Regions from separate parts of the Homo sapiens genome. Here all the other regions are linked to region 2. Evidence: fine-mapped expression QTL. A gene starts in region 2. Each other region holds a variant in brackets. All regions are shown on one strand. Distances are from middle to middle.

What was found.
Region 1: its variant is fine-mapped to the expression of CLDN23 in whole blood (INTERVAL, PIP 0.95).
Region 3: its variant is fine-mapped to the expression of CLDN23 in monocytes after LPS (Fairfax 2014, PIP 0.95). The same link has a PIP of 0.9 or more in monocytes after muramyl dipeptide.

Annotation. Positions count from the first base shown.
Region 1 is chr8:8,653,393-8,664,095 of GRCh38, reverse strand. No RefSeq gene overlaps it. Among named protein-coding and RNA genes, the nearest start is that of CLDN23, 43 kb to the left of the region's middle. The variant T/C (reference allele first, on the strand shown) is at 6,401.
Region 2 is chr8:8,696,649-8,707,351 of GRCh38, reverse strand. CLDN23 (claudin 23) reads right to left here and starts at 5,415. Exons shown (of 1, transcript NM_194284.3): 1 at 3,256-5,415. The coding sequence starts at 4,953. The coding sequence ends at 4,075. RefSeq lists an enhancer at 4,622-5,589 and a silencer at 5,063-5,682.
Region 3 is chr8:8,676,384-8,687,086 of GRCh38, reverse strand. LOC105379225 (a long non-coding RNA gene) reads left to right here. Exons shown (of 3, transcript XR_948927.4): 1 at 1-181; 2 at 306-413; 3 at 948-1,026. Among named protein-coding and RNA genes, the nearest start is that of CLDN23, 20 kb to the left of the region's middle. The variant C/G (reference allele first, on the strand shown) is at 6,495.

The DNA of each region.
Region 1 (10,703 bases), 43 kb after region 2:
AAGAAGCATCACAAGAGATATGCTGCTTTGTGGCCGGGCGCGGTGGCTCACGCCTGTAATCCCAGCACTTTGGGAGGCTGAGGCTGGTAGATCACCTGAGGTCGGGAGTTCAAGACTACCCTGGCCAACATGGTGAAACCCCATCTGTACAGAAATACAAAACTTGGCCGGGCATGATGGCAGGTGCCTGTAATCCCTCCTACTTGGGAGGCTGAGGCAGAAGAATCACTTGAACCTCGGAGGCAGATGTTGCAGCGAGCTGAGATTGTGCCCCTGCACTCCAGCCTGGGCGACAAAGCAAGACTCCAGCTAAAAAAAAAAAAAAAAGCTACAGTGTTTCAATGTTGTCTGTGTCCCCACACGCAGATTGAATAGATATGACACCTTGCATATATATATATATATGTATATACAAAATCTCACTTTGTTGCCCAGGCTGGAGTGCAGTGTTGTGATCACAGCTCACTGCAGTCTCAACTTCCCTGGCTCAGGTGATTCTCCCACCTCAGCATCCCGAGTAACTAGGACCACAGGCATGTGCCACCATGCCTGGCTAATTTTTGTATTTTTTGTAGAGACAAGGGTCTCACTATGTTGCCGAGGCTGGCCTTGAACTGCTAGGCTCAAGTGATCCTCCTGCCTTGGTCTCCAGAAGTGCTAGGATTATAGGCAGGAGCCACCACGCCTGGCCACCTTGCATATCTTAAATGAAAGTTATACTTTCTTTTGATAGCTGTCATGTTTTGGAGAAAACAACCTATCATTTCATGGTAACTTTGACTTGGCCTATCCTATGAGTGGCTATAAATGGTTACTTCTTCTAGTTTACTCATTATACCAGGCTTGCTATTTGTCCCTGCTGAGTGGCTCATGTGGCAATAATTAATGCAATTATATAGCAAGATTAGCTTTTCTTTCATAAAACTCAGTGAGCTTGATGAACCAAGAGGGCAAAGGAAAAGAAGTAATGAAGCAGCTTGTAATTGCACAAAGATGAGCTGCTAGAGTCTACACTGCTGGAAATTTGATGTTGAGGAGATCTGAATCTTTAAGTTATTTCCCTAATTCTATATTGGGAATACGGAGGAAGGAAAATCAACAAAGAGCTTTGTTAGAAAGCATATTGAGTATTAATCAATACTTAAAGGATAACGTTTGCTCAAACATAGAGTACCTAGAATTTCTTTTTTAAGACACAGTTTCACGTAGGATAAAGTCTATTAAATTTTGCAGTGTAATAAACTGCTATAAACATAGAAGATTGGCCAGGCAAGGTGGCTTACACCTGTAATCCCAGCACTTTGAGAGGCCAAGGCAGGTGGATCACTTGAGATCAGTAGTTCGAGACCAGCCTAGCTAAAAGAGTGAAACCCTGCATCTACCAAAAAATACAAAAAATGGCTGGTTGGGGTGGGGTCCCAGCTACTCCAGGTGGAAGAATCGCTTGAACTTGGGAGGTTGCAGTGAGCTGAGATTGCACCACTGCACTTCAGGCTGGGTGAAACAGAGAGAGATCCTGTCTTTTAAAAAAAAAAGAAGAAGAAGAAGTTTAATACAACATCATTGCTTGAGCCACAGTTTCTGTACGTCAGAAGTCCTGGCAGGCTTTTCTGCCTTAGTTCTCTTTTATTGCTTTTTTTTTGAGATAGAGTCTTGGTCTGTCACCCAGGCTGGAGTGCAGTGGTGCGATCCCAGCTTACTGCAACCTCCACCTCCCAGGTTCGAGCAATTCTCCTGCCTCAGCCTCCCAAGTAACTGGGATTACAGGCATGCAGCACCACGCCTGGCTAATTTTTGTTTTTAGTAGAGATGGGGTTTTGCCATGTTGGCTAGGCTGGTCTAGAACTCCTGACCTCAAGTGATCCACCTGCCTCGGCCTTCCAAAGTGCTGGAATTATAGGTGTGAGCCACCACAGCTGGCTTGATTTTCTGCCCCAGTTCTTACAAGTCTGCAATCAGGTGTCAATTGGGGTCACATTTGAGGCTCAGGGTTCTCTTCCAAGCTCATGTGGCTGTTGGCAGAATCCATTTCCTTGCAACTGGAGAACTCACAGAGGCTGCATCTTCAAGGCTGACATCTATCTGGCTTTGAAATTCTCTGACTCCTTTTAAAGGCTCATCCGATTAGATTAGGTTCATCTAGAATAATCTTTTTTTTATTAATTCAAAGTCAACTGATTAGGGATCTTAATTACATCTGCAAGATCTCTTCTGCCATATAAAGCAAAATAATTATGGGAGTGGTATTCCATTGTACCCACAAATCCTGCTCACATTCAAGGGAAGGGGCTCATAATGAACATGTAACCAGGGGGTAGGACTCTTGGGACCCAGCTTAGAATTCTGCCTACCTCCCACTAAGCCCAACTCTGAAACCTGGACAGGGTACAATGACAGCTATTTGAAAACTCTGCAAAATAAATAACAGTAGGAAATCAGGGAACAACACCAGAATTCTAAGAGCCATAGAACTGGCAGATAGAAACAAGACCCAGCATAATACTGAAAATGTTCAGGATACAAACCAAAATTACTTGTGATATTAAAAAACCTCTAATTGTGAAGTGGCATCGTTGTCTGGGGTAAATACCTGAGGTTCGTTGTCTGACAGCCACAGAAAACTAGGACATTAAGACATAAAGAGTGAGCTTAAGAGCAGAAGTTTAATAGGTGAAAGAAAGAGAAGAGCTCTCTCCTGCAGAGATAGGGGTCCTGAACGGGTCACCAGTCTACGGTGAAATGCAGAGCTTGAGGAGGTAGTGTCTGATGTATACAGGTCCCAAAACATTGGTCGGACCAGGTGTGCCATTTGCATAAGGCACAAAAAAGCTGGTTAGGACTAGGTGTGCCATTTGCATAGGGTGTGAAAAACTGGCTTCTCCCACCCTAATCTTGTATTATGGATGGGTTCTCTACCTGGCTGCAGCCATGTCGCCTGTTTCTTTACTGTACACTTGGTAATAAAGAGAAGGGAAGATGGAGCCTCCATGTTGGATGTGCCTGGCCCCCGGGTAGCCCTTTTCTGTTGGTACACTGCTGGCATTCACACATGCAAGCTTCCAGCTTGATTATCTATCTTTGCAGCTTAAGTTTTCAGGCTGCTCCTTGATAGAAAAAATAATTTCTTGGGCTACTTTTTGTTAGAAGGGAAGCCTTGCTGAAGACTCTTTACCCTCACTATTTGCCTAAATAATTTATTTCTAGCTCCTGTATCATTTGCATGGGAAAAGAAAATCAACAGACACCAATGATTAGATGACACAGATAATAGAATATTCTAGAAGGACATTAAAGAAGCTATTATTAACGAGCAAGTCCAAACACTCTTGTAACTTTGGATTTAATTTGGTCTTACTTTTTCTAGTTTCTTAAGGTTGAAGATGAGGTAATTGATTTCAGAACGTTCTTCTTTCTAGTGTAGGCATATAGTGTTACACATTTACCCTAAGAACTGCTTTAACAGCATCCTGAAAATTTCTATATGTTCATTTTCATTTAACTGAAAATACTTTCTAATTTCTCTTTTGATTTCTTCTTTAATCCATTTAGTATTTACAAGTATATAATTGTGTATTATTTAGTTTCCATCATCCAAATAATTGGGATTTTCCAGAGATCTTTTCATAATCGATTTGAATTTACTTCCATTGTGGTCAGAGAACATACTTAGTATGACATGAACACTTCCAAATTTATTGTAACTTGTTTTATAGCCCAGAATATTGTCTATCTTGGCAAATGCTCTGTGTGTCTTTGAATACACTGTGTGTTTTGCTGTTGCTAGGTGGAGTGTTTTATAAACGTCAATTATGTCAAGTTGCTTAACAGTGACTTTCAAATCTTTGATAAGCTTGATGACTTTCTTTTTACTTCTGTCAATCAGAGAGCTAATTATTGAAATCTCCAAGTATAATTTTGGATTTATTTTGTTCTCTTTGTAGTTCTAACAATTTTTGCTTTATGTAGTTTGAAGCTCTGTTATTGTGTGCCACTGTTACTAATTTGCCACTCCAATTTTCTTTTGATTAGTATTAGTATGGTATATCATTAAAAATAATTTTTAAATTATTTTACTTTACCCATGTTTTAATATATAAAGAACATTTCCTTCTCCTCTTCTTCTTCTTCTTTTGACTTAACAACAGAAATTTATTTTTTCACAGTTCTGGAGGCTGAAAGTCTGAGATCAGGGTGCCAGCATGTTTGGGTTCTGGTGAGGGCTCTCTTCCTGGCTTGCCAACAGCCACCTTCTCACTATGTGCTTACATGGCCTTTCCCTGGTGCCAGTGTGGGTGGGGGCCAGGAGAGCAAGAAGAGCATGTCTTATAGACAGTATTTATTTCGGTCTAGATTTTCAATCCAGTCTGACCATTTCTGCAGTTAATCAAGATTGTTTAGCTCATTTACATTTAATGTGATTATTGATATGATTAGGTTTAAATCTGCCATCTTGCTGTTTGTTTTCTAGATGTCCTATCTGTTCTTTACTCACTTTTTTCTATTTTTGCCATCTTTTGAATTAACTGATCCTTGAAATAATTTTTTTTTTATTATTGGCTTACTAACTATAAATCTTTTTGTCATTTTAGTAGTAAAATATAGTGTATATAGTTTATAGTGGAGAGCATATAATTCTAATTTTTCACTGTCTTCTTTTGTCTGACCTACCACTTTATGTGTAAGAATCATACAATAGAGGCTGGGTGTGGTGGCTCATGCTTGTAATCCCTGCACTTTAGGAGGTCAAGGTGGGTGGATCACGAGGTCAGGAGTTTGAGACCAGTCCGGGCAACACAGTGAAACCCCATCTCTACTAAAAATACAAAAAAAAATTAGCTGGGCATGGTGGGGGGCACCTGTTATCCCTGCTACTTGGGAGGCTGAGGCAGGAGAATTACTTGAACCCAGGAGGTGGAAGTTGCAGATCCGAGATCGTGCTACTGCACTGCAGCCTGGGTGACAGAGCTGAGGTCAGCAGATCGAGACCATCCTGGCTAACATGGTGAAACCCTGTCTCTACTAAAAATAGAAAAATTTAGCCAGGCATGGTGGCAGGTGCCTGTAGTCCCAGCTACCCAGGAGGCTGAGGCAGGATAATGGCGTGAACCCAGGAGGCGGAGCTTACAGTGAGCCGAGATCGCACCACTGCACTCCAGCCTGGGTGACAGAGCGAGACTCCATCTCAAAAAAATAAAATAAAATAAAATAAAAAGAATCACAGAATAGAATATTTCTATTTCCCCCTCCTGGTTGCTCTGCTAGCACTGTAATATATTTTACTTACACGTATGAAGTTTAACTACATTGTTCTTATTTTTGTTTAAATATTCAGTTATCTTGTAAATAGATTTAATAAGAAAAATCACATATAGTTACAATTTTTGGTGTTCCTTTTTTGTGAAGCTCCTTACTTCCTTCTGCCTAAAAGACTCTAAAATGTCTTGCAGTGTGGATTTGCTAGTGAATTCTTTCAGTTTTTCTATGTTTGAAAACATCTTCATTTCATCTTTGTTTCTGAGAGATATTCTTGCTTGGTGTAAAATTCTAGCTTGATAGTTTTTATCTTTCAATGTTTTGAAGATGTCTGTTGGCTTACATTGTTTTCTATTAAAAAAATCTATTCTCATCTTTATTTTTGTTTCCTCTTTATGTAACATCTTATTATTTTCCTCTGGCTGCTCTAATATTTTGTGTCTATTATTGATTTCTTTAACAATTTGATTATGATATGTCTTAGTGTTTTGTTTCATGCTTCTTTTGCTTGGGGGTTTGTTGAACTTCTTGGATCTGTGAGTTTTTAGTTTCAATTAAGTTTGCAATGTTTTCAACTGTCATTTCTTCAAATATTTGTTCAGTTGCCTCTCCTCTCCTCTGGCAACTCCACTGCACGTGTATTAGGCCAGTTGAAGTTGTCTCAGAATTCACTGATCCTCTTTTAATTAAAAATTTTTTTTCCAGACAAGCGTGGTGGCTCACACATGTAATCCCAGATTTTGGGAGGCCGAGGCAGGTGGATCACATGAGCTCAGGAGTTCAAGACCAGCCTGGTCAACATGGCAAAACGCCATCTCTACTAAAAAAACACACAAAAAAATTAGCCAGGTGTGATGGCACACACCTGTAATCTCAGCTACTCAGGAGGCTGTGGCAGGATAATTGCTTGAACCTGGGAGCCGGAGGTTGCAGTGAGCCAAGATTGCACCACTCTACTCCAGCCTGGGCAACAGAGTGAGATTCTATGTCAAAAAAAGAAAAAAAAAATTGTTTTTCCTCTCAGTGTTTTTATTTTGGATAGTTTCCATTGCCATGGTTTCAAATTTACAGATCTATTTTTTTGCTATGTCTAATCTACTATTAATCCCATCAATTTTTTAAATTTTTGATATTGTAGTTTTTTATT[T/C]ACAGAAGTTCAATTAGAGTATTTTTGTTAAATCATTTTTCTCTACTTAACTTTTTGAATATCTGGAATATGGTTATAATTGCTCAATGTACTCGTCTACTAATGATAACATCTGTGTCAGTTTCGAGTCAGTTTTGAATTATTTCCCCCATCATGTGTTATATTTTCCTTATACTTTCTATGTTTGATAATCCTTATCAGATACCACCCGTTGTGGTTACTACCATTTTTGGATACGTGATACTTTGCTTTCCTATAGCTGTTCTTAAGCTTTTCTCTGGGATGCAATTAAGTTGCTTGGGTATAGTTTGAGCCCTTCAGATTTAGATTTCATAATTTGTGAGGTGGATCTGGAGCAGTGTTTGGTCTGCGGCTAATTATTTCCCACCGCTAAGACAGAATGTTCATGAGTATTCTGCCCAGTGTTCAAAAATGTGTTTTCTCCCTGGCTGGCTGGTGGGAGGGAACAGCTAATAGTCTTGACACTTGGTGAACACTGTGTGCTTTTCTCTGATCCTTTCAGATGTTTTCGCCCCTCTGGCATTGAGTAGTATCTTCACATGCTGTCACGATCAATACTGTGTGAATATTGACAGAACCCCGTCCAGATCCCAGGATTCTCTCTCTGTACAACTATCTCTGCTGGTTCTCTGTCCTGTAAACTCCAGCTGCCTTGCTATCCCTGGACTCTCATTTCCATCTTCTTGCCTAAAGGAGTCCACCAGCTTCTACCTGGGTTCTCCCTTCCTGTGCCACAGTCTGGAAACTGTCTCAAGACAGTGAGCTGGGGCAAAAATAGGGCTCCACTAATTTGTTTCCCATCTCTTGGAGGTCACTGTGCTTCATTGCCTGATAACCAACGTCTTGCAAACTGTCATTTAATACATTTTGCTGTTCTTGTTTGTGTGTGTTCATACTGGTTTCAGGCAGGTGGCAAAATGTGTCCACCTTAAGTCAAAATCTGACTCCATCTTAAGCAGAAACAGTTTTCTTCCAGCAGTGTATCCTTGCCAGGTATACTGAATAATCACAAAATGTTTTGCTGATGCAAAAGTGAGATGCTGGGAGGTTAAAGGCCTCACCACAGAGCCATCTCCCCGTGATGCTACCTCCTGGAGGAAGGGCATGCACTTTTCGTGTCTTTGCGAGAGAAGTTTTAGTAGAATCTTTCCATCCTGGCACGTTACTTGGCTATAATTACATTACAAATGCTAATGGGAGTTATAATCACAATTATGCTAATCTCTGTGTTTAGTGCCTACTGTTGCAAGCAATTATGGCCAATGAGCTCAATTTGTAAGTTAGCATTTATTAAAGTTAGCCACTGAAATATTCTGTCTTAGGCAGACTGCCTCTAACATTTTTGACTAAAGTGATTTACTTAAACAATTTCCTAATAGGGAATAAGTACTTACAAAAAGGCTTTTCATCTTCATTTTCCTTTGATGAAACAGAAAGGAAAACATGCCTGGAGTCAATGTTTTGGCCTGTCTATTAGATAACAAGGGCTCTGTGAAGTTCTTTAAAAATATTTCAGAGAAAGTTTTCTGAACAAACTGCCCAGCTCTGGCTCAGAGCTCTTACAGGAACTGTAGAGGAATTGATGAGGAGAAACCTCACATCCCAAATGGCAGCAAATAAGAGACTTGGCAGCCTGTGTAGGCAGTGGAAGACAATTAGGACAGGAAATTAAACACACACACGATCTCTTTATATTTACGTTTCATGCATTTATCTGGGAGTCCATCAAAAGCAGATATGTTAAATGGATGTAGAACTAGACAGGCAAGATTCTAAAGCATACATTTTTCTCATTGCTAAAAGGAGAACTGTAACTGAGATGGTCTTGAGGGCGTTTGCTTTTTCCAGGAGTTGATAATTTTCTGATCATCAACTCCAGGGTCCAGGACCTCATGCTGGCCTGAGCTTCTCAGGGCCCACCTTGGGGTACCCAGCAGGACTTATTACAGTGGAGCCTGGCATCTACCAACATGTGACCTTCTCTCCCAGTTTCTGTGCTCCATGTCTTTAAGGCCTGATGGTTCTTCTTGGTTTATCTGATCAACGAATACAAGGAAGGCACTGCTTGTATTGTGGGTGCGCTGTGGGGCACAGGCAGGAAATGCACAAGATAACCCCTGAGCACTTCCAGCCTGTGTCCTGCCCAGCGCACCTGCAAGGGGAGGGAAGAAAATCATAGAGCTGTTATTTATATTTATTTTTATTTCATTATTTTCTTATTTATATTTCATAATGTTTATAATATATTAGGTATAGTAATATGAACGTGTGATTCAAACATATATACGTACAATAATACACCCATCTAATTTATACACAGTTAACCCTAAACTTGCCCTAATTGTGTAAATCTCCTTTCTAGGTATTCTATCAATTTGTCGTCTTTTTTTTTTTTTTTTTTTTGAGACAGAGTCTCACTCTGTTGTCCAGGCTGGAGTGCAATGGTGCCCCCTTGGCTCACTGCAACCCCTGCCTCCTGAGTTCAAGCAATTCTCCTGCCTCAGCCTCCCAAGTAGCTGGGATTACAGGTGCATGCCACCATGCCCAGCTAATTTTTGTATTTTTAGTAGAGATGGGATTTCACCATGTTGGCCAGCCTGGTCTTGAACTCCTGACCTCAGGTGATCCGCCCGCCTCGGCCTCCCAAAGTGCTGGGATTACAGGTGTGAGCCGCCACGCCTGGCCAATTTGTCTTCTTGAAGACAACTCTGTCAGAGCCTCCGAACCTGTGCCAATCTGGGTTTCTGGCTCTCTGGGTTTGCCGTATACCTGTCGCCTTATGCTGTCTCTTGGCCAACATTTGGGAATGATCGTTGCTTCTTTCTCTCTTTAGTTGCATGGATCTCGTATCTTGCTTTCTCTGGGTATATTTCTGGCATATCTAGCTTCCTGAGAAAAGAGTAAAAGGAAGGTGTGGTGTTATGATATATATCGGTTTTTGTCCCCAGTTCCTGGCTCATAAGTCCCATAGCCCTTGTTAGTCATTTGTTATAATTCTGGTTTGTGTTAGGCCTCAGGAAACAGAATCTCTCCAACCTTCTCCTGCCCTCCTTTCATCTGCCCCAAGGCAGGACTCTAATCTTCCCCACCTTTCTGATGTGGGTCTTTAGATTCTCCTCAGAAAGGGTCCCACCCAATACCCCGGGGGAAGGCCTGCTGACATGAAGTTTGACGAAAAATCCAAGAAGACAGGGTTCAGTGAGCTTCTGGGTGGCTGAACACAGGGAATTTTCTGGAGGGTGGCACCCAGGGAGGGCATGGAAGCTCTGCACCCCTTCTGTCCTACCTCACCCTATGCATCTCTTCATCTGTATCCTTTGTAATACCTTTTATAATAAACCAGTAAATGTAAGTAAGTGTTTCTTTCAGTCCTGCGATTTGCTCCCACAAATTAATCCAACCCATAGAGGAGGTGGTGGGAACCCCAACTTGAAGCCCATTGATCAGAAATTCCAGAGGCCAGGCATGGTGGCTCACATTTGTAATCTCAGCACTTTGGGAGGCCGAGGTGGGTAGATCACATGAGGTCAGGAGTTTGAGACCCGCCTGGCCAACATGGTGAAACCTGGTCTCTACTAAAAATACAAAAATTAGCTGGGTGTGGTGGTGGGCACCTGTAGTCCCAGCTACTTGGGAGTCTGAATCAGGAGAATCACTCAAACCTGGGAGATGGAGGTTGCAGTGAGCTGAGATCATGCCACTGCACTGCAGCCTGGGTGACAGAGGGAGACTCCATCTCAAAAAATAAAAAAATAAAATAAAAAGAAGTTGCAGAGACCTGGATTTGCAACTGGAGGAGGGGCAGTCTTGTGGACTGAGCCCCCAACCTGTGGGATCTGACATTATCTCTGGGTAGACAGTGTGGGAACTGAATTGGAGGACACCCAGCTGGTGTCCACATATTTGTTACAGAAGTCTTCTGTGTTGATGATTGTTGTGGTGGTGTGAGTAGAGGGGAAATGTGGTATGAGTTTTTCTCTACACAGAAGGAATCCTTAAAGACTTTGTACATTTGAAAAAAAAAACTTTGGTGTTTTTTCACATTTAATCAATAATTTGGCTGGATATGGAAATCACTTTCCCTTAGAAATTTGAAGGCATTGCTCCCTTCTCCTCTAGCTTCTAGTTGTTGTTGAGGAAATTGAGGCCATTCTGATTCTTGATCTTTTGGATAAAACCTTTTTTATTTCTCTTTTCGTGTTGGAAATTTGTCAGATGTTTTCCACAGCTTCCCTCTAAAGAGTAACCACCATGATGACTTCTTGCACCTCCAGCCCTTGGT
Region 2 (10,703 bases):
GCAGGGTCTAGGAAGAAACAGACTGCAGGGCACGAGGCTGCAAAACAGGCTGATTGCTCAAGTTGATTAAATTCCTAGAATCCCCAGAGACCCTCCCTGTCTGCTTATGGAAATATTCTAGAAGACAGGGTGAATTTGTTCCAGATGGTATTCCCTCTGAAAGAATCTGTTAGCCTGGCAAAGAGTAGATGACAAGGTTGACTCAGGGTTACTCCGTTGTACCACCAGCTGCTTCTTGGCCTTACCACCCGATTCTAGAAAGAGAAGCAAAACTAGCTGGTAGTAAGACTGAGACGCCCACCTGTTTTCACATTTTCTCTAGTGGAAACTTGAAGTTGTTCCTTCTGCCTAAAAGGCTCCTCTCTCTCTTCTTTCAGTTCTCTGCCCAAGTACCTCCTTCTTCTTGACCACTTTTCCTAAAATATCACCTTTGGCCAGGTGTGGGAGCTTTCACCTCTAATTCCAGCACTTTGGGAGGCCAAGGTGAGAGGATCACTTGAGCTCAGGAGTTCGAGACCAGCCTGGGTGACATAGTGAGATTCTGTCTGTTTAAAAAAAAAAAAAATTAGCTGGGTGATGTGATGCATATCTGTGGTCCCAGCTACTTGGAAGGCTGAGGCTGGAGGATCCACTGAGGTTGGGAGGTTGAGGCTGCAGTGAGCCCTGATCATGTCACTGCACTTTAGCCTGGGTGACAGAGTGAGACCCTGTCTCCCAAAAACAAAACAAAAACAAAAAACACCTTTCTTCCTCCATCCCTTGATTTCTGGCTTAATCTTTTTCATTTTATTTGTACATGATCACAGGAGATTATTTAAGTTCCACACAGAATGGGCCTGGATGGTATTGTTTTTCATGGTGCCCACAAATGTGCTGGCAAAATGTCAGACGCTCAAAAACATACTGGGTGAACGATCTACACAATGAAGGGAAGGATGGTTGCCAAAGCACCCTGACAGCACCTCCCGCAGCCTCCACGGTGGAGAACCAGCTGTGTGCTCAAAGCCACACCCCTCCTTGGTGAGGGCGTGTGTCCAGATAAGAGCCAGATTGGCGAACGGGTAGAGCAGGGATGTGTTAAAGCAGTTTCTGCCTTACCTTCACAGAACTCACCGTCCTCCTGGCATCACTTGAGTAATCTAGAAAAGACTTCATCCATTCAATGGGGACTTATACTTCCTTTGGGGATTGGGAGGATTAAACATGAGTCTGGTAGGTCAGAGGGCTTGATACAAGACAGAAGTGCTTTGAGTGTGTTCTCTGTGGTGCAGTTGCTGGGCTGGTCAGTGGTAAGTTTAGGAAAAGTTTAGGATAAATTCTTGCCCACAGCAGCAACTCCTGAGACTTGCTGTGGCAGAGAATGACCCGCAGGGCAAACGTGGATCCCAGACTGATGCAGGACTCTCTTTCCATGCTCTCCTGAACCTTTTTTTTTTTTTTTTCTTTGAGACAGAGTCTCGCTCTGTCACCCAGGCTGGAGTGCAGTGGCACCATCTCGGTTCACTGCAAGCTCCGCCTCCCGGGTTCACGCCATTCTCCTGCCTCAGCCTCCCGAGTAGCTGGGACTACAGGCGCACGCCACCATGCCCGGCTAATTTTTTGTATTTTTAGTAGAGACGGGGTTTCACCATGTTAGCCAGGATGGTCTCGATTTCCTGACCTCGTGATGGGCCCACCTCGGCCTCCCAAAGTGCTGGGGTTACAGGCATGAGCCATCATGCCCGTTTTTTTTTTTTTTTTTTTTTTTTTTTTTTTTTAATTTAAGAGACAGTCTCGCTCTGTTGCCCAGGCTGGAATGCAGTGATGTGCTTTTAGTTCACTACTGCCTTGAACTCCTGGGCTCAAGTGATCCTGCTGCCTCAGCCTCCTAAGTAGCTAGGACTCTAGACATGTTGCCACTATGCCTGACTAACTTTTAAAAATTTTTTTGTAGACATGGGGTCTAGCTATGTTGCCCAGGCTGGTCTCGAACTCCTGGCCTCAAAGCATTCCTTCCACTTGGCCTCCCAAAGCACTGGGATTACAGGCTGTCTTGAATATTTCTATAGCAAAAAGGAGTTTGTATTTTTAAAGGAGGAGTTTTGGCTTCGTTCTCTTGATAGGGGAAAAGTAGAGTTTTAACTCCCAGCAACCGAATCCTAATCCTCAGGCAGGAAATGTTTTGCATATAAGGCAGTGGAGAATCATTGGGATGGGGAGAAAAGCAAAACACACAAAAGTTTTGTGTGTTTTTACCAAAGCTTCCCTGGAGATAGAATTATGATGCAGCCCAGACTCACCATTTGCCAGGAGCCCAGTACCTGTACGGTGTCTGCTAGGTGCTGACTTCTCAGGTCCCTAATTGCTGCCTTCGGAGGTGTTAGTGGAAAAGAGCCCTGTTGCACTTTCTCCCTTTTGGCTCTGTACCCTCGAGCAAGTCCCCAAGCGCATCTCGGTAGCAGGCACTCAAAGGTCTGAATATGAGCCACCAGTTGGGATTGAAATTTGAGTGAGACAGTCCCAGCGAAAGCCTTGCAACTCCAAGTGTGGTCCATGAGCCGGCAGCATTGGCATCTCCTGGAAGCCAGTTAGGAAATCTTTTCAGGGCCTCACTCCAGATCTACTGAATCAGAATCTGCATTTGAAAGAGATTCCAAAGTGATACCGCCTACACGTTAAAGCCTGGCTTCAGAAAGAGAGAAAGAAGTGATTCCAGTACCAAATGGCAAGGGAAGTGAATCTCTGTCATCCCTTCCACTCTAACAGGCAGCATGTGCTATTAAGTTAGCCTCACTATAGCTATTATCAGTGCTTGCTGAACTGAATGAATGTTCCTACCTCTGAACGGCAGGTTTTAAAGAAGAGATTCAGTTCGGTTAAAGGTACCCTTAAATCAACCACTTGGAATTGAAGCCAGCCCTGCTGGAGACCCAGTCCCCTTCATGGAACACATAGCTGCCTTCCTGTGATTCTAAACACCACTGCTACAAAGGAAAAGATTTCCAGTCTCACCTCAAGTGGAAACTGGTGCTTCTCGTTTTCTCAGCAATAGACTTGGCTTTGCACAGAAATGGCATGAACCTAAAACCAAAGCAATCAGGGACTTAAGTGGGGCCCGTTGGCTTTTTTTAGTAACCTTATGCTAAGAGGTGCAAAGATTTGAGTGCTAGATTTCAGACACAAGTGCCGAGGCAGCCAGGAAATTGTTAGTAATGAATGTTTAAACTCCCAAACGTTGTACTGAAGACAAAAGAGCTTTTGTGGCTATACTGAAACTATTGTTTTAAAATTTTATTTATAAATAAAAGATATATACATATGTGCTTTAATATGATTAACAGGTTCCATTTTGTACAAAATGTTAAACCTAGAGTCCTCTGCGTCCTGGATGAGGCGTCCAAAGGGTGGAATAGTACAGCATTAGGACCTTTGTTCTCCTCTTGGCTTCTGGAAGAGAAACTCTTGCATGCCCTCGACTTTCACCGCAAAAATAAGTGAGAAAAAAGATAAATCCCATTTATGCAATGATATGTAGCTATGAGTTAATCACGGTATTTCATTCCATGAAATCCATTAAGCTGCTGGCATTTGCATGGCTCTAAGTTTATTTTAAGAGGCTCATTCAAACATGGCCAGGAATATATTGGCCTCTTGAGAGTTTGCATGGCAAGGAGTTATACAGCAGGAAAAAGAAAAAAAACCCAATAATTATATTGATGCAAGATTCATCAGTATTTTAGAATATTGTCGTTTCAACATGTTAAATTGTTTCTGAGCACTGCTGATTTCAGCACTGTCCCTGGTCCACGTGACGCAAATGCCACCCTTTCCATATATTCTTCAGCAAAAATATATGAAAAGCCCGTCACTCCCTAAGAGGACCCTGATCCCTCTGGAGAGGAAAACTAAACTCTTTAAGAAGAAAACCAAACCCAACCTGAACTAATCGTCCAAGGAGTCCTGTTTGGTCCCACGAAAGGCAGATTTCCATCCACACCAGTGAGGGGCAAGTGTCCGGGTTCCAACTCGAAGCCAGGCGGGCCTGTGCGGGGGTGAGTCCTTTGCCACCCGGCGCCCCCCAGGCTCTACAAGCGTCTAGAGGTCGGAGTCGCAGGGCAGCGAGCTGTCGCAGGGGTGGGTGCTGCACGAGGGAGCGTCCTGGGACTCCCACCCCTCCCCGTCGAGGACGTCCACCGAGTTGGTGTAGGCCTTGGGCCGCGGCCGCGGCATGGGGAAGCCGACCTTGGGCTTGGGCTTGGGCTTGCGGTGCTGGGCAGGCGGCGGTCGGTGCTGGCCGTCGCTGTAGTACTTGATGGCGGGCGCCAGGTCGGGCTCGGGCCACTCCACTTGGATGGTGCTGACGCTGCTGCGGCGAGGCCCGGCGGAGGGTCCCTTGCGGCGGCGGCGACAACGCTCGTCGCACCAGGGCGCGAAGCTGAGCGCCAGCGAGAAGCCGCCCAGCAGCAGGAGGCAGCTGCCCAGGTAGCCCAGGACCAGGCTGTAGCTGACCTGCACCGTGACCGGGCTGGCCGGGGCGGGCAGCACGTCGCGGTCCCCCAAGAAGTGGTTGTACCAGGACACCGGGATGAGGCCGAGGAGGCCAGCGACGAAGAGCACGACGCCCGAGAGCCCTGCCAGCACGAAGTTGGGCTCGTCCTGCCAGCAGCGCACGCCCAGCGACGCCAGCAGAAGCCCCAGGACCGTGGCGGCCAGCGAGGTGACCATGAGTGCCCGCGCCACCAGCACGGGCTGGGCCTCGAAGTAGCCCCACTGGTCCGTCTGGCCGCACTCGCGCTCGCGGCTGCTCTGCTCGCGACACATGTCCCACAGGCCCTGGTACAACTCCACGTCCACTGGCTGGTTCAGGAAGCCCTTCACCAGCCGCCAGCCGGGCGCCAGGGTGCCGGTCAGGTTGAGCAGGAGCCCGCAGGGCGCCAACACCATGCCCAGCGTCATCACCACCGGCGTCCGCATCCCGGCCCGCCGCGCCGACGGCGCCCCTGCAGCCTGCCTTCCTTCTCCGCTGTCGCCTTCTCCGCCGTCGTCTTCTCCCTGCCGTGCCCCAGGCTCCGGGGACCCGAAGTCAGCGCGGACGCCCCGGGCTCCGGGTCGGGCTCCTGAGCCCTGATCGCTCCAGGGACGCTCTTTGTCTCCTGCACGGGGACCGTCCCCACTTAGGCTAGTTCCCTCCTGGCGTCCCGGCCGCTCCGCCCTCCTACTGGCCCTAATCGAAACCAGCCCGCGGGCGGGTCTGACCGAAACCGCGGGTCCGGGCGCGGGCGCCCAGGGGCGGCTGCCGCGGCCAAACCTGGCCCGGGAGGGAGGGACCCGAGGTGAGCGCAGGAAGCGGCGGGGCCACCTCGCCCGCGGCAGGTGAGATGGGGATCCGAGCGGCGGGGACACCCCACCTTGCAGCCGGGCGGCTGGGCCACGCCTGGCCTGGACTGCTCACGGCCGGAGCAAAGGTCGCCCCGCCCCTGGGTCCTCGCGCCGCCCCGCCGGGCCAGGCGGGCGGTGGGCGGGGAGGGAAAGAGGCGGCGCTGGCGGGACGCGGTGGCTGCGCAGCTTCCCTGCTGCTCAGCGGATCTCGGTTCCTAGAATTTGTTTCCGGTCCCTGCCCGTCGACCCTGCGCTTATAGCTTAGCCCTTTACTCCCAGAGGGTTCCAGATCGCCCCCTGGTTTGCTCTGCAACTTGCAGCCACTCGCAGAGAAGTGGGCGGTGCCGAGCGCTCCCGGGGATTGGAGGTGCGCTGGGTGAGTGTGCAGAAGCCCACCCAGTCCAGGAGCGTGTCCCAGAACGTTGCACCGGATTATTTCCTTAATAAAGGCTCCACACTCTGGATTAAATTCGTCTCTAAAGAATCTGTGCCAGTGTACTTCTGGGCAGAAGGGTTACACAAGGATTTTACTTTCCTTTTTCAGCCTTGTGAGACTTTCAAGGGGACTAGAAAGAGGGACCAGTGTTCCCGGATGTCCTGCTTAGCGTTTTTTGCAGGTTTATTTAATTTTACAGTGTACTGTGGCCTTTCTCGTCTGTAGGTTATTTTACAACTCTATAAATTATAGAAAGCCTGTAGTATTGCAAATGACTTTTGCCAACATCAAGGCTAATGAGTTCGTCCCAGTGGAATGATTATTGTCCAATGGATACTGACCAGTATGGCATTGATTTGTAAATTCATTTTAGCATTCCTGTTTGTCTGTATATGTGTGTCCTTTTGTTCTTTGCTTTTTTTTTTTCCTTTTTCTTTTATTTATTTATTTATTTATTTATTTATTTATTTATTTTAAACAGGGTTGGGGAGTTTCGCTGTGTTGCCCAGGCTGGTTGCAAACTCCTGGGCTCAGGTGAGTCTCCCGCCTCAGCCTCTGGAGTAGCTAGGACTGCAGGCAAGTGGCCAGCTTCTTTGGTTTTAACATCATACTGGTTTCCTTATTCAATAATGAGTTAAATAACCTCTTTCACACATATTCATTTTATATTTGTGTGAAAGTCACGATGTTTACATTTTTTCTAAAAATTATCCTTTAATAACACTTTTTTGTATTTTCTAGATTTTTACAATGAAAACGTATTGCCTTTATAATTGTTTAAAATTAAAACTATTTTTAAAATTCAAGTTAATTTAGCATTGGTTTGAAATAATTTTGAATATTCCAGAGTGGACAACACTAGGAATGACAGTGACTGCTTTTTTTAAAAGAATATTTTTAAATTAAAAAAAAAACCTGTGGTAACATATATGTAACATACAGTTGACCGTTGTAACCATCTTTAAGTGTACAGCTCATTGGTATGACATACATTCACATTGTTGTGATACCCTCACCACCATCCACTCCTGGGATTTTTTCCTCTTCCCAAACTGACACTGTACCCACTAAACACTAACTCTCCTTTCCTCCCTCCCTCACAGGCCCTGGTGATCACCATTCTACTTTTTTCTCTCTATAAATTTAACTACTTTAGGTACCTCATAGAACTGGAATCGGACCGTATTTGTCCTTTCGTGACTGGCTTATTTCACTGAGCTTAATGTCCTCCAGGTTCATCCATATTGTAGCATGTGTCAGAATGTCCTTCCTTTTGAAGGTTGAATGATATTCTATTGTGCATAAATACCACATTTTGTTTATCCAGTCTTCCATCCATAGACACTTAGATTGCTTTTACCTTTTGGCTATTGTGAATAATGCTGTTGCATCATTTATGTAATAGTGATATATACATCACTTTTAATTTTTTTTAATTAAAAAAATTTTTTTTGAGATGGAGTCTTGCTCTGCTGCCCAGCCTAGAGTGTGACGGCAAAATCTCGGCCCACTGCAACCTCTGGTTCCTGGGTTCAAGCAAGCAGTTCTCCTGCCTCAGCCTACCTAGTAGCTGGGATTATAGGCACCCACCACCATGCCCAGATAATTTTTGTATTTTTAGTAGAGACGGGATTTTACCTTGTTGCTCAGGCTGGTCTCGAACTCCTGACCTCAACTCATCTGCCAACCTTGGCTTCCCAAAGTGCTGAGATTACAGGTGTGAGCCACTGTGCCTGGCCTATGCATCATTTAAAATTTGTCTTGTTTCATTAACTGTGTGGTGATTAACTATCTAAAGCAGGAATCAGTCTGCCATCCCTCTCATACATGTCAGAAGGTATCATGTGTGACACTGCCACTTCATAAATGCTTCATGTGATTTGAATCCTCTTCCAACATAGTTTCGTTTTTGCTTAGATCTCTGTGGAATGAGTGAAGCCCAGGTGTTATTTACCTGTGGGGAGGAAGGGCATCCTGGGGGTTCTACCTCCTAAATCTGTCTTTCGTCCTTCCATGTCTCTTTCTTCTCTACTGCCTCTTCCCAGTACAGGCCATTCTCCCATCTTTCTCCTTAAGCTGCTAACTGGTCTCCTACACCGGGCTTTGTGGCTCCCTTTTTATTAGCCACACGAACCTCACAGCTGGCCTGCATCAACCCTTTACAAGACCATTCCCAGTCCCACCCAGCCCTGCATTCCAGCCCTGTCTCTCCCTCCCTGCCGCCTCATCTCCTCACATTATAACCCAAAGAAACTGGATTTCCCCCCACATTTTCCCCGAACATTGTGTGCCCTTTTGCTTCCAGACCTTTGCAAATGCCCTTCTCTTTTCCTAGTGCCCTGCCTATCACTTCCCCACTCCAGTGCATCCTTAGATCTTTGCTTAAGTGCCATTTTCTCTGGGAGGGTTTCCTCATCCCCTAGATGAAGTTAATTAATTTTTCCTTTCATATACTTCCGTGACACCCCTTCTGTCACACCACTTACCACAGTTCCTTAGTCCTTGAATCATTTTGTTTTCTAGCTGGTCTGGGAGTTCTCTGAGGGCAGGGACCACATAGATCTTGTTCTGTTCTGTCCTCCAAACACATCTTGGTGCCTGGGCCACCGCAGCCACTCAACAAATCAATATTATGTCTTTCTGCCCTGAGTTCTTCCACATAGTACCTACTGAATTTTCCAACAAATGACCGTCTGGCCAAAACAGATTGTGACATACATCTCAGTAAGCAGGTTGATTTGTTTGAATGTTTCTTTTTCCTTAGCATAGAAAACAATCTATCCCATACGAGTATGGGATAGCTCCAGATATTTACGACAAATAAGCGTAGGCCTGTGGGGCTCACTTTCTGCGACAATAGAGAAAGAAGTGACTGTGTTAAGCATAGCATCTGGGGATAGAGCTGACCTCTGTTCCCTGGCCTTCTGAGTTCATCTGAAGTCTGAGGGAGAAATAAAGCATGAGTCACTCTGTGGTAGGAATGAATGAATGATTGCTGACATTAGGACCTGGCTGTGTAAGTGGATACCCAGGTTCTACCACAGATTTCTTTTCTGAAGAAGGGCCCGGTAGTAATGCAAGAATCTGTTCACTATGCTGCAGCTTTTGAAATGAATAGTGAGCCCCCAGCAGTGAATTCTGAAGGGACTGATGCTGAGTCCCCTGTTTGCCTGCACTCTAGGCCTCTGCTACCACCTCGCACAAAGGTGCAACCTGCAACAGCTTCATCTTGGAAAGTCACATTACCAACTTTGGCTAGGACAGAGGGTCCACTAGATCATCAGTCCTCAAACTCTTTGGCACCAGGGACAGGTTTCATGGAAGGTAATTTTTCCATGGGGTTGTGGGGGTAAAGATGGTTTCGGGATGAAACTGTTCCATCTTGGATGATCAGGCAACCTAGATCCCTCGCATGTGCGGGTTACAATGGGGTTCACACTCCCATGAGAATCTAAAGCCACCACTGATCTGACAGGAGGTGGAGCTCAGGCAGTAATGCTTGCTCGCCCATGGCTCATCTCCTACTGTGTGGCCCAGTTCCTGACAGGCCACAGACTGGTACTGGTTGGTGGCCCAGGGGTTGGGGACCCCTGCACTAGATCACTTTGCCATAATAAGATGTCCTCAGATTCCCTCTGCCAGGTCTTTATTTTACTTTCTCCAAAGGCTATTTTCTCTTTTTCTTCCTGGAACTCTGAACACCCTTTCCTGTGTTTGCTAAGCGATAAGACAATTTTGTTCACAATGTTATACTATGAGAATTCTGAATAGGAGTGAGAAATGAACTCCACTGATAATCATCCTATGGTAAATCTACTTCAGTGAGTTATAGAATAAAAATTAGACTATGAAAAAACTTAAACTATGATCTTTATTTTTAAATAGCATTAAAACAGCCTGAATTGAACAAAGCCCCTTCAATATTGTATTAGTTTTTCTTTTTGGCCAGTAGTCCAACAGCTGTTTTACCAACTGTGAGTGCCTAATATTGTAGAAAATAAATCAATAACTTTTCACATCGAGTGTGAAATAGCCCTCTTGTTAGCTCAGTATCACTTCCCTCTAATTTGTTCTGTTTATAGAATTTATCACTGCCACGTGTTTTCTAATATGTGTGTACTGACTTATCTATATTGTTTCCTACACCGCATTGTAAGTTTCAAAGACTAGAGATGTTGCTTGTGGCTATATCTCAGCTGCTGGAATAGTGCCTAGCTCTTAGTGGTACTCAGTACAAATCTATTAAATAAATGAAAGAATTTTTGTAAAGTTCCTGCATAGTAACACAATAGAAGAATGTAGCATACATCGCTTTTTAAAAAATTATAGTAACATCCACATAAAGTTTACCATCTTAAACATGTTACATGTACAGGTCACCTAGGTAAAGGTCAGTAGTCTTAGGTTCATTCACCTTGTTGTGCAACCAACTGGCAGAACTCTTTCCATTTTGCACGACTGGAATTCTATCCCCATTCATCAATTCTCCATCCTTGCTATCCCCCAAGCCCCTAGCAATCACCCCTCTATTTCCTGTCACTCTGAATTTGACTACTCTAGATAGCTTATGTAAATGGATTCATACAATATTTGTTATCTTGTGACTGGCTTATTTCACTTAGCATAATGCGCTCGAGATTCATCTATGTTGTAGCATATGTCAGAATTTCCTTCTTATTATGGCAAAAAATAATATCCTATTGTCGATAAATTCCAGATTTTGTTTATCCAGTCATCCATCAGTGAACCCTTGGGTTGCTTCTACCTTTTTTGGTTATTGTGAATGCTGCTGTGATGTATACATTTTTTTTTTTTTTTTTTTTTGAGATGGAATCTCACTCACTGTAGTGATCTTGGCTCACTACAACTTCTGCCTCTCGGGTTCAAGCGATTCTCCTGCCTCAGCCTC
Region 3 (10,703 bases), 20 kb after region 2:
AGTGGGAGGGTCACTGAAGTGACATTTGGACTGGGTCATAAAGGATCAATAAGATTTTATGAGTCAGAGAAGGTTGGGGAAGGACATTTCAGGCAGAGACAGGAGTAGCAAAGGCCCAGAAATGTCTTAGTGTAAACCAAATCAAGGAAATGGTAGGGGGTATGGACCAGTCTCTAGCCAGGTGATAAAAGGACATGATTTAATTTGACTTTTGTCCTTGCAGACCTCATTCTGCAAATCCATTGTGGATTGCCTTCCAAGGAATCTTGATTTCAGCTAACTCTTCACCACCCTTTTTGCAACAGGTTTCAGCTAGGACCTACAAAGTGAAAAGGACACCTCCTATAATATTTAGCTAGACGGTTCAGAATTTATACCTTGTCTCGTCTTTGCTGTTCTGTCTTTAACATAATGTAAGTTTCACTGCTGATTCATTTTATCTTAATAGACAGGTAAGCATAATTTTGCACATGACATTTGGAGATGATCTGCACTTGGAAAATGAACTGATTTGTTTTCTTCCCTGCAGAACATGGGAAAGGAGAACTCTAATAGGTTACAACCAGTTTACTTCACCAGCTCCCCCTTTGGCATTGAAATAAGCGTTTTGACTTCTTTGTAATATACCTGAATATCATTTATTAGAATTTGACACAAAGACAAGTGTTCTTCATTGTTTGTATCTGTAACTAGGGAAATATGTTTTCTGAGAGTTTTAACATTCCAATCCATCATCTAGCTAATCCTTTTAATCCCTGTAGATAAGTAAATAGAAAAAAATGTATCAATCATTATTTTTATTTTTACTAGCCCACATCCTCATTCAGAGGTTGCACTGTTGATGATATTAAGGCAATCATGTTCTTTTTTAAACACCTGACTCATTGCTTGTTTCTAGTTAATATGGAAATAAATGGCGCTCTCTCTCTCTCTCTTTTTAATAAAAGGCTGGCTTGTGCTGTTCCAGTGCTTACAGTGAAACTGAATGTCAAGTGAAGCCATCTGAAAATAAAAAGGGACCAGAAATCATCTTGTCTCTTTATTTTGTGACATGTTTCATTCTTCTCTTTCCAGCAACTTTAAAAAATTCATTCAGTTTGCTTCCATTTCTGTTATTTTAAAAATATGTCCTCTTGTTTCTTTGATTTTCTTAAGTAGCATAAGCCACTCCTGCCTGTAGACACACACACTCATTCTGCCTTGTTGTGCTGGGCCGTCAGCAGGAACCACTCTTAACTCTAGCTCCATGTGAGCTCTCTTCCAGGAAGTAATAGAGCTGGGGAGCTGGTACTTGAAGGATGAGACTTCACCAGGCAGTTAAAGGAGAAAAGCGATCCAGGCAGAGGAAACAGTGGGAGCTAAAACCTGGAAGAGTAACTCCTGAGGGTCATGAAGTTTGTCCTACTATAAATGTACAAATGTGTGTGTGTGATCTCACCATCGCCATCACTGTGACGCTGCTGAGGCAGGTTCAGAAAAAACTTGAATGTCACGCTGGAGGGTGTGGTCTTTATTCTGCAGGTGAGAGAACTATGAGTGGTTTTAAAGCCAGGTAATGCCATGCCCTGATTTGGTTTTGAGCCATCACTCTGTAGCAGAACAGAGAGAAAGGGGGGCTGGTTAGGAGGCTATTTAATTGCGGTGTATCACGTGACAGATGTTAGACTTGGAAGTCAGTATTCCAGAAGAGAAGAGCAAAAGTAATGTGGTACTGGGGGTGGTGGTTAGCCTGGGGACTGGGTGCATGGCGAAAGCCAAGTTTCACAGCAAGACAGGGAAAAGAAGGTGTGTGTGAATGGCGAGGCCAGGGACAGGGACGTGGGAGGGGAGGAATTTGGCTTTGGATATTTAGAAAGTTCAGGGAGGAAGATTGCATAGATGACTCTGAGATCTGATAATGGATCAAGGTGAAGTCTGATGCCTTTTGTTTGCTTGCTCGGTTGCCAGCATTTTTAGACACTTGTTTATCTGTTTGGGTGTTGTCTCTTTCCACCTGCAGCTCCCTAGATGTTTACGGTCACTTTTCATACATATATATATATATATATATATATTTTTTTTTTTTTTTTGCGACGGAGTCTTGCTTTGTTGCCCAGGCCGGAGTGCAGTGGCATGATCTCGATTCACTGCAACCTCTGCCTCCAAGGTTCAAATGATTCTCCTGCCTCAGCCTCCTGAGTAGCTGAGATTATAGGCACATGCCACCACACCCAGCCAATTTCTGTAGTAAAGACGGAGTTTCACCATGTTGGCCAGGCTGGTCTTGAACTCCTGACCTCAGGTGATCCTCCTACCTCAGCCTCCCAAAATTCTCAAATTACAGGCATGAGCCACCATGCCTGGCCAACTTTTCATTTATAACAATGAAAGTTTCCCATTGCCTTTTTTTTTTCTTTTTGCTGAAATGTACTCTTCTAGCATTTAAAGTCAAAGTGAATACAATGTCAGGTTAACCCACTTGAAAATAAAAGCAACCAACTGCCATAACAAGACTTAAAAAATAATATAGAGCTGCTGCTTTTCCTCTCTCTCATGTTTTATTTTTACCCTTATGATTTTCTCATAATCACTTTGATTTTTTTCTTCCAATATTCTTTTCCCATCTTCCCACTTAGAAGGAAGCAGTAGATATTGGGGCATTTTTCCTGGTCATTTTCAGAGCATTGGTTCTGCACTGCAGGGTTAGTTACCTACCACCTACCTAGGAGATGGGGGAAGTTACCTCCCCCTCTCTCAAGCTGTCTCGGGGAAATAATTAGAAACTCAGATTAAAATTTTCATTCCCATAGCTTGAGCTGTGAAACAACAAGATACATGACAATATTCTTGGAATATCCTTACTCATAAATGTCAGAAAATGCCTTCCTTAAAAAATAGAAATGTAAAAATTTCTTCTTTTTATTGCAACACTTACCTATGGGCATGTAATAGCCCTCACTGAATAGTTGTTGAATGAATTAAAATATAAATTATTCACTTTTTTAAATTATTATTATTTTTGAGATGTAGTCTCACTCTGTCACCCAGGCTGGAGTGCAGCGGCACAATCTCAGCTCACTGCAACCTCCCAGGCTGGAGTGCAGTGGCGTGATATCGGCTCACTGCAACCTCCGCCTCCCGGGTTCAAGCGATTCTCCTGCTTCAGCCTCCCGAGTAGCTGGGACTACAGGCACATGCCACCATGCCCAGCAAATTTTTTACTTTTAGTAGACACGGGGTTTCACCATGTTGGTCAGGCTGGTCTCAAACTCCTGACCTCAGGTGGTCCGCCTGCCTTGGCCTCCCAAAGTGCTGGGATTACAGGAGTGAGCCACTGTGCCCGGCCTAAAATCTAAATTATTAAAAAAAGGTTTATGAACTCTACGAATGACTTCTCCTTTTTATTACACAGCACCACTGTTGTAACAAAATGATGTTAGTTTTAATCTCCAAACCAGTTCCGTAAAATGCTAAAAACTCATGATGATTCAGAGACATGTTGACTGTCATCTGCCACCAAATCACCATTTAAAAAGATAAAGAGTCCTATATTAGATAGAAAGAGGCCTCATATAGAGTATTTCATCCCCCAAAGCAGGTGCTCATCAAAATAGATTCTAATAATTATGGACTCTAATTCAGTGGATGATAGGCTTATGTTACAGCAATCAAAGTGCCTTTTTTCAATTAGTGCATGTCAAATAGAATAGGAAGGTTTGGGCTTCTCTGTAATGACATGGTTATTACCGATTTCTTAGAGTGTTGCAGTAATGGGCCGAGCGTGGTGGTTCACGCCTGTAATCCCAGAACTTTGGGAGGCCGTGGCTGGTGGATCACGTGAGGTCAGGAGTTTGAGACCAGCCTGGCCAACATGGTGAAACCCCATCTCTACTAAAAATACAAAAATTAGCCAGGCGTAGTGGTGCACACCTGTAATCTCAGCTGCTTGGGAGGCTGAAGTGGGATAAGTGCTTGAACCCAGGAGGCAGAAGTTGTAGTGAGCCAAGATTGCGCCACTGCACTCCAACCTGGGCAACAGGGCAAGACTCTCTCTCAAAAATAAAAAAATAAGTAAATAAATAAATAAATAAAAAGGACGTTGCAGTAATGTAATGTTTTCCAACATTATTTTAACGAGGTTCAGCTGAATCAAGTTACCTATCCATGGTTTGGCGTCAAATCAACACACCTGGGGCAGGTTCTAAATTTGTCTACATTATTTTTCTTTACGGAACTTTCCAAACTCTTGCTAGGCCACAACATGAACCTGACAATTGTTTCTTTCTGAGCGAAGATCCTGTCAGACAAGTGAGCCATTGAGACTGGAACCCGCTGTGGGTTTGTGTGTTGTATGTTGCAAAAGGCAGGGTCCTTTTTGCATAACGGATCCTCCTGAGACTGAGGCTGGACTTGAGTTTGTTAGTCACAATTTTCATTTCCGTAATGAAAAACCACTTTCTTAAAGACAACTTTATTAATCAGAGAGTGGAATTTCAGATTATAGAGACAACTAAAGATTTGGATGAATTTTAGCATCCATTCTGTCTATAGTAAAATGAAGATGCTGTACCTTCCATATACCATTTCCTGGGTGCCAGGCATTGTGCATAGTACTTAGCTCACATCAACTCATCCTATTCTTTTGCAACGGGGTGTGAAATGTGACTTTTCCTGTGCCCTCCTTGTGTTTGGCAGAGGCTTCAAAGCTCAACCACAGCAGGTGCCAGACCATCTCTGCAGAACCAGTTTGGCCACCATCACTCATCATGCTCCTCCAGGCTCCATAAGAAAAAGTGCAAAAATTCCCTAGGAAGATCAGGGCAGAGACATCCCTCTAGAAAGAGTCTTCTGCCATGGTGTGGCCTCCCCATTTTCCCGGTATCTCCCAGGGCTCTTTGTACAAGGCGGGCTCTGCAGAGAGACAGTAAAAACCAACCTGATTCTTCCTCAATATCATGGCATGTATTTTTCCAATAATTGCTCTTCTCTGTCCTTGGATGAATTTCTGAGTTCATTGATTTACCTATCACCTTCAGATATTAAAAAATCTGATACATAGTTGAAATGCCAACACACATTTATTTTTTATTTTTATTTTAAAAAATATTTTTAAAGTAAATACATAAAGACATAGGCTTGCTGTGTTGGCCATACTGGTCTCAAATTCTCAGCCCTGAGCGATCCTCTCGCTTTGGCCTCCTGAATTATTGGGATTATGGACACGAGACACCGCACCCAGCCCCAACCCACATCCAATTCACCACAGTGTTTCCTCTCCTTAGACGCATCCTGCCTCCAGCTAGGAGGTCTACAGTGTGGCCAGGCCACAGTTAACTTCCTTCCTATCCCCTCATCTGTCTTCCACTAGTCCTTTCCCCGAACTTACTGTGCTCCTTTGGGGTTCAAGGGAAGAGAGGAGAAGTGTTGAGGGGCTGAAAAGGCTGTCTTTGACTGGGGCAGTGCTAATCTGCCCACACAAGTGTGGCACATGGCCACATATGGATTGTGTGTCTCCTGGGTCCCTCTTGTGGGGATCTTGGACAGCCCCATTGGGCACAACCAATGATCATTCCTGGGTTGGCCTCTTCAACTTCTATCCACTCTGACTCCCTGTAGGTGGGGATTACTGCTGCCACCTCCCCTCCTCCCAAGATGGTCTTCTCAGATGGAGTCTCCTTCTTTCTTTCTTTGGCCCAGATCAAGGCCATCTGGCCCATGGAAGTCATAGCCGCTGTGATGCCCCTGGTGTGGTGCTTCTAGCTCCTCCTAGAGCCCACTCCTCCCTCTGCCTCCAGGGAAGTTCAGCCACAGCTTCTCGCTTTCAGCCTTTTTATAAAACACAAGTGAGGCTGGGCATGGTGGCTTACACCTATAATCCCAGCATTTTGGGAGGATGAGGTGGGAGGATCGCTTGAGGCCGGGAGTTTGAGACCAGCCTGGGCAACATGGCAAGATCCCCTCTCTAAAAACTTTTTTTTAATTAGTCAGGCATGGTGGTGCACACCTGTGGTCCTTGTTCCTCAGGAAACTGAGGTAGGAGGATTGACTGAGCCCAGAAGTTCAAGGCTGCGGTGAGCTATGATCATGCCACTGCACTCCAGCCTGGGTGACACAGTGACACCCTGTCTCTAAAAAACAAAGCAAAACAAAAACCATGAATGAGACACCAGTCCATGCATACTCTCCACACTTCAAGTTTTCCAACATTTTCTAATATTTTCTGGTTTCTCTCTGATCTGAAGCAGGTGGGTTGCAGAAGGGCACCCCTTTCCTTACCTGCCTCCTCCCATTTGGGTGAACTGCATGGCACCCCAGCAGCCCTCCACAAGGACACTCTCCCTGGCAGCCTCTCTAGCACATCTTATTAATATTCTCTTTTATATCTTGAGAGGAGTAATTGGCTCATTCGGCAATGGCGGCAAATGGGTTTGGGGATAATTCTGCAAGTCTTGTGGAAATGGCCAAAAGCCTGCCTGAAAACGTGGTGGTGCTTGACACTTCTTGTTTTCAGTTTT[C/G]GGTCCTTGGTCCAAACTCTGCTAACACTTAATCTGTGGATTAGGAGTTTACAAATGTCCTTTTTACAAATGTTGAAACTAAGACTCAGAAAGATTAAATAAGTTGCCCAAGTTTGCATGACTAATAAATGGTAAAATGGAATTCTGCTTACTGCTGTCTCGTGATTTCCCAGAATCCAGTGAGTGTTTACAAAACCCGGGATAGAGGTTAGGAGAGGTTGCTTGAGTTTCTGACTCAGCAGTTTTGTTGCTATTCATGTAATGGAAAACCATATTCTAAAACACAACTTTTCAAGCACAACCGATCTGTTGTATGGTCCTGAGTTTAGCTAAAATTTTATTTCTTGTAAAAACTGAGGCTATGTGGACTGTAGGTGAGTCCTTTTTGGTTCCCAGAGTTTAGAACAAAGAGTCAGGAGGCTGACCCCACAATCTCCAAAGTCCATTTTTCCATCTGAACAGATAAATAGGGTCCTTTAAGGTGGTGGAAAATAAGTACCTTTTTAACATCTCTCTAGAATAAGAAACACAAGGATATTGTATAACAGCTTAGGACTTTTGTTTCCCTTTGACTTCTCACATTGCTTTTGTGTAATGTTGGCATTCAAAGTTTCTTTATTTTTTTGATTAACATCCGTGTTTTTTCCTAGGGCTGCTGTTGCAGAGAAACACAGAGTGGCTTAGAACAACAGAAATGCATTACCCTGCAGTTCTGCAGGCTATGGTCTGAAATCAAGGTGTCAGCAGGGCCGCGCTTCCTCTGAGCCTCTAACGGAGGATCCTTCCTTGTGTCTTCCAGCTTCTTTTGGCCTTAGGCAATTTTTGGTTTGCAGCGGCGTTAACTCCAATCTCTGCCTCCTTCATTACGTGGCCTTTTCCTTAAGTGTCTGGGTCCACATTTCCCTGTTCTTAGAAGAACACCAGTGATATCTGACTAAGGACCCACCACTCCAGTCTGACTTCATCTTCACTTAGCTAATTGCATCTGCAAGGACACTATTTCCAAGTCAAGTCACATTCAGTGGTACTGGGAGTTGGAACTTCAGCATACCTTTCTAGGGGGCCACAATTCAACCCATCACAACTCTCAGTTACATATTTCCATCCCCATGGAAACAGGAGCTGCAAAGGGCATTTTTGTGAAGAAGCTAAGGTTGTCTTTGAAGCCTGCCTTCTTTTCCCAAGGGCAGAGGAAAACTTCTGCCACTCAGCATCCTACATTCTCAAAGCCCTCCATTTGGGACACAAGGAATTTTATACATTCACACATCCAATGTACATTGGTTTGGCTGTGTCCCCACTCAAATCTCATCTTGAATTGTAGCTCCCATAATTCCCATGTGTTGTGGGAAGAACCCAGTGGGAGATAATTGAATCATGGGAGTGGTTTCTCCTATACTGTTCTTGTGGTAGTGAGTAAGTCTATCAATATCTTTTGGTTTTTTAAGGAAACCCCTTTCACTTGGTCCTCTTTCTCTCTTGTTTGCCTCTATGTAAGACGAGCCTTTCCCTTTCCGCCATGATTGTGAGGCCTCCCCAGCTGCATGAAATTGTGAGTCCATTAAACCTCTTTTTCTTTATAAATTGTTCATTCTCGGGTATGTCTTTATCAGCAGTGTGAAAGCAGACTAATACATACATTGCTAGCCCTAAATTATTTTATGGTTATTCCTCCTAGAATCTTTCCCTTTTAAATGTTGGTAATTTGAGCTGAAGGAAAAGAATTTCTGGTTAAAGCAGAGACAGAGAAGGGGAGAAGGAAGCTGGCCTCGAGGAAGCTTCTTTGGATATGAATATGCCATAAGAACAAATCAGAAACACGGAGCCAATGACTTCAGCTCTCTGTACACTCCTTCTTACAGAACCAGGAAAGCAGACCCTGGGCCCAACCACTCTGCAACACAGGGAGTGTAAAACGCCTCCTGGGTGTCATACTCTACCTCTGTTGACTACTTGTGAGTGCACACCAGCAAGTTGTGCAGAGCCATTAAGAACTGCCCTTCTCAGCCGGGCACCTGTAATCCCAGCACTTTGGGAGACGGAGGCAGGTGGATCACTTGAGGTCAGGAGTTTGAGACCAGCCTGGCCAACACGGTGAAACCCCATCTCTATTAAAAAAAAATTACAAAAATTAGTCAGGCGTGGTGACGGGTGCCTGTAATCCCAGCTACTCAAGAGGCTGAGGCAGGAGAATCGCTTGAGCCTGGGAGGTGGAGGTTGCAGTGAGCCAAGATTGTGCCACTGCACTCCAGCATGGGCAAACAGAGCGAGACTCCATCCCAAAAAAAGAACTGCCCTCCTCAGCCAGATACCACCTGAGCGGGACCTGAATTTGGCAGTTGTGGTCAGCCGCAGTTCTAGCACGAACAGTTTTTGGCATAGTGTATTTTTCTAAGAATAACAGATTAGGTTTATTATCTAAAATGAAAACTTTAATATAAATAGAATACTACATGTAGTATGATTATGTATGCTGTTGTGTTATATAATTTACATAATAATATAATTTTATCTAGACTTAAAACAATTTACTATAACTAGTTCTATTCATAGCATGTGTGTGTATTTTATTCTAAATAGCTGTATATTATTTAATATAAAAAAGTTATAAGAACTTTCAACACGCTTTTTAAAAACTAATTCTAGGACGATTGCAAATAAATAAAAATGCTGTTGCCTTCAGTGCATATAATGATATAATGAATCGATTGTTTTGCATATAAATTCAAATATAGAGTTTTCTCAGCTCACACCAAATAGGTTACTATTCACCCCTAGGCAGATTTCTCCGGGCTGGTTTTCCCAGGGTCTCCCGTGGTTGCTCTGTCACACAACTGCAAGGGCACTGGCAACTTTGTGTTTTCTTTTCTTTTCTTTTTTCTTTTTTTTTTGAGACGGAGTCTTGGGCTGTCATCCAGGCTGGAGTGCAGTGGCGCGATCTCAGGTCACTGCAACCTCTCCCTCCCGGGTTCGAGTGATTCTCCTGCTTCAGCCTCCTGAGTAGCTGGGACTACAGGTGTGCACCACCACGCCTGGCTAATTTTTGTATTTTTAGTAGAGATGGGGTTTCGCCATGTTGGCCACGCTGGTCTCAAACTTCCGACCTCAGGTGATCCACCTGCCTTAGCCTCCCAAAGTGCTGGGATTACAGGCATGAGCCACCGTGCCCAGCCTATTTTGTGTTTTCTACCAGCCTCCCTCTAACACCATTCCTGGCATAGAGCAGACACTTAGTAAATATATGTCTTTTAATCTCAGTAAAATAAATGCTTGAGTTTATTCCTTTTAAGGGTAATCTGTCATGGTTTAAGACAAAATTGGACTTTCTATAGACTGTGTCAGCCTTGATAAGTCTTGAAATCTTGGGTACTACTAAGGTTACCAATTTTAAGAGTTAAAGCAACAATAACAGCAAAATACCTTTTGATGACCTAAAAACTTGTTGCATCATTTCATGTGAAAGATTTGAGAGGCATAGCTAGAAGAAAGACTGCCAGCTTGGAAACCAAATTCAGGCTTGATCAAGGCAGATACTGACCAGTGACTCAAAAGTGACAGAAAGCTTCCTGTATTTAATCAAAGATTCGAAGTCAACAAGTAACAGAAAGATACAAATAAGGCCGCTTAGGCTGCTTGGCATACGACTGCGTCATTCTGTTGAACAGGAAAACAAAAGTACTTGACCTTTGCTGTTGTATTTTATCGGGAGACATGAGGGTCCTGTGGAAACAGTTCAGGTCTCACGTAATAATAGCATTTGCTGTTCTTTAGGTTTTAAAAATTTTGATGCGTGAGGAATTCACTTTTCTGTTTCAGGTTTCTCATGCATAAAATGAGGACAATAATACCTGTAGCATGGTGCGATTGTAAAAATTGAGATAATACAGTATCCTGCGTGGTGCCATCTTTAAAATTTCTTCTGTGGATCGCACATCTCCTTTCCGCTACTGCTCTAGGGCTCTGCTTCTGAACAAAGCGTGTCCTCTCAAAAGACTTGATATTAGGCCTCCATTCTCACAGACTCTTGTCATCATCCTGCTCCAATTAGTTCTTTGGCTCTAGCCCATCAAGTTCCACAATGACCTCCATATCTGTTAAATCTCATGGTCAATTCCTGTCAATTTCCTGTCCTCAGAGCAGCATTTGACACAGCTGAACACTCTGCTTTTCTGGAAATGTAGTTTTCTCCAGGCTTCCAGGATTGCACTG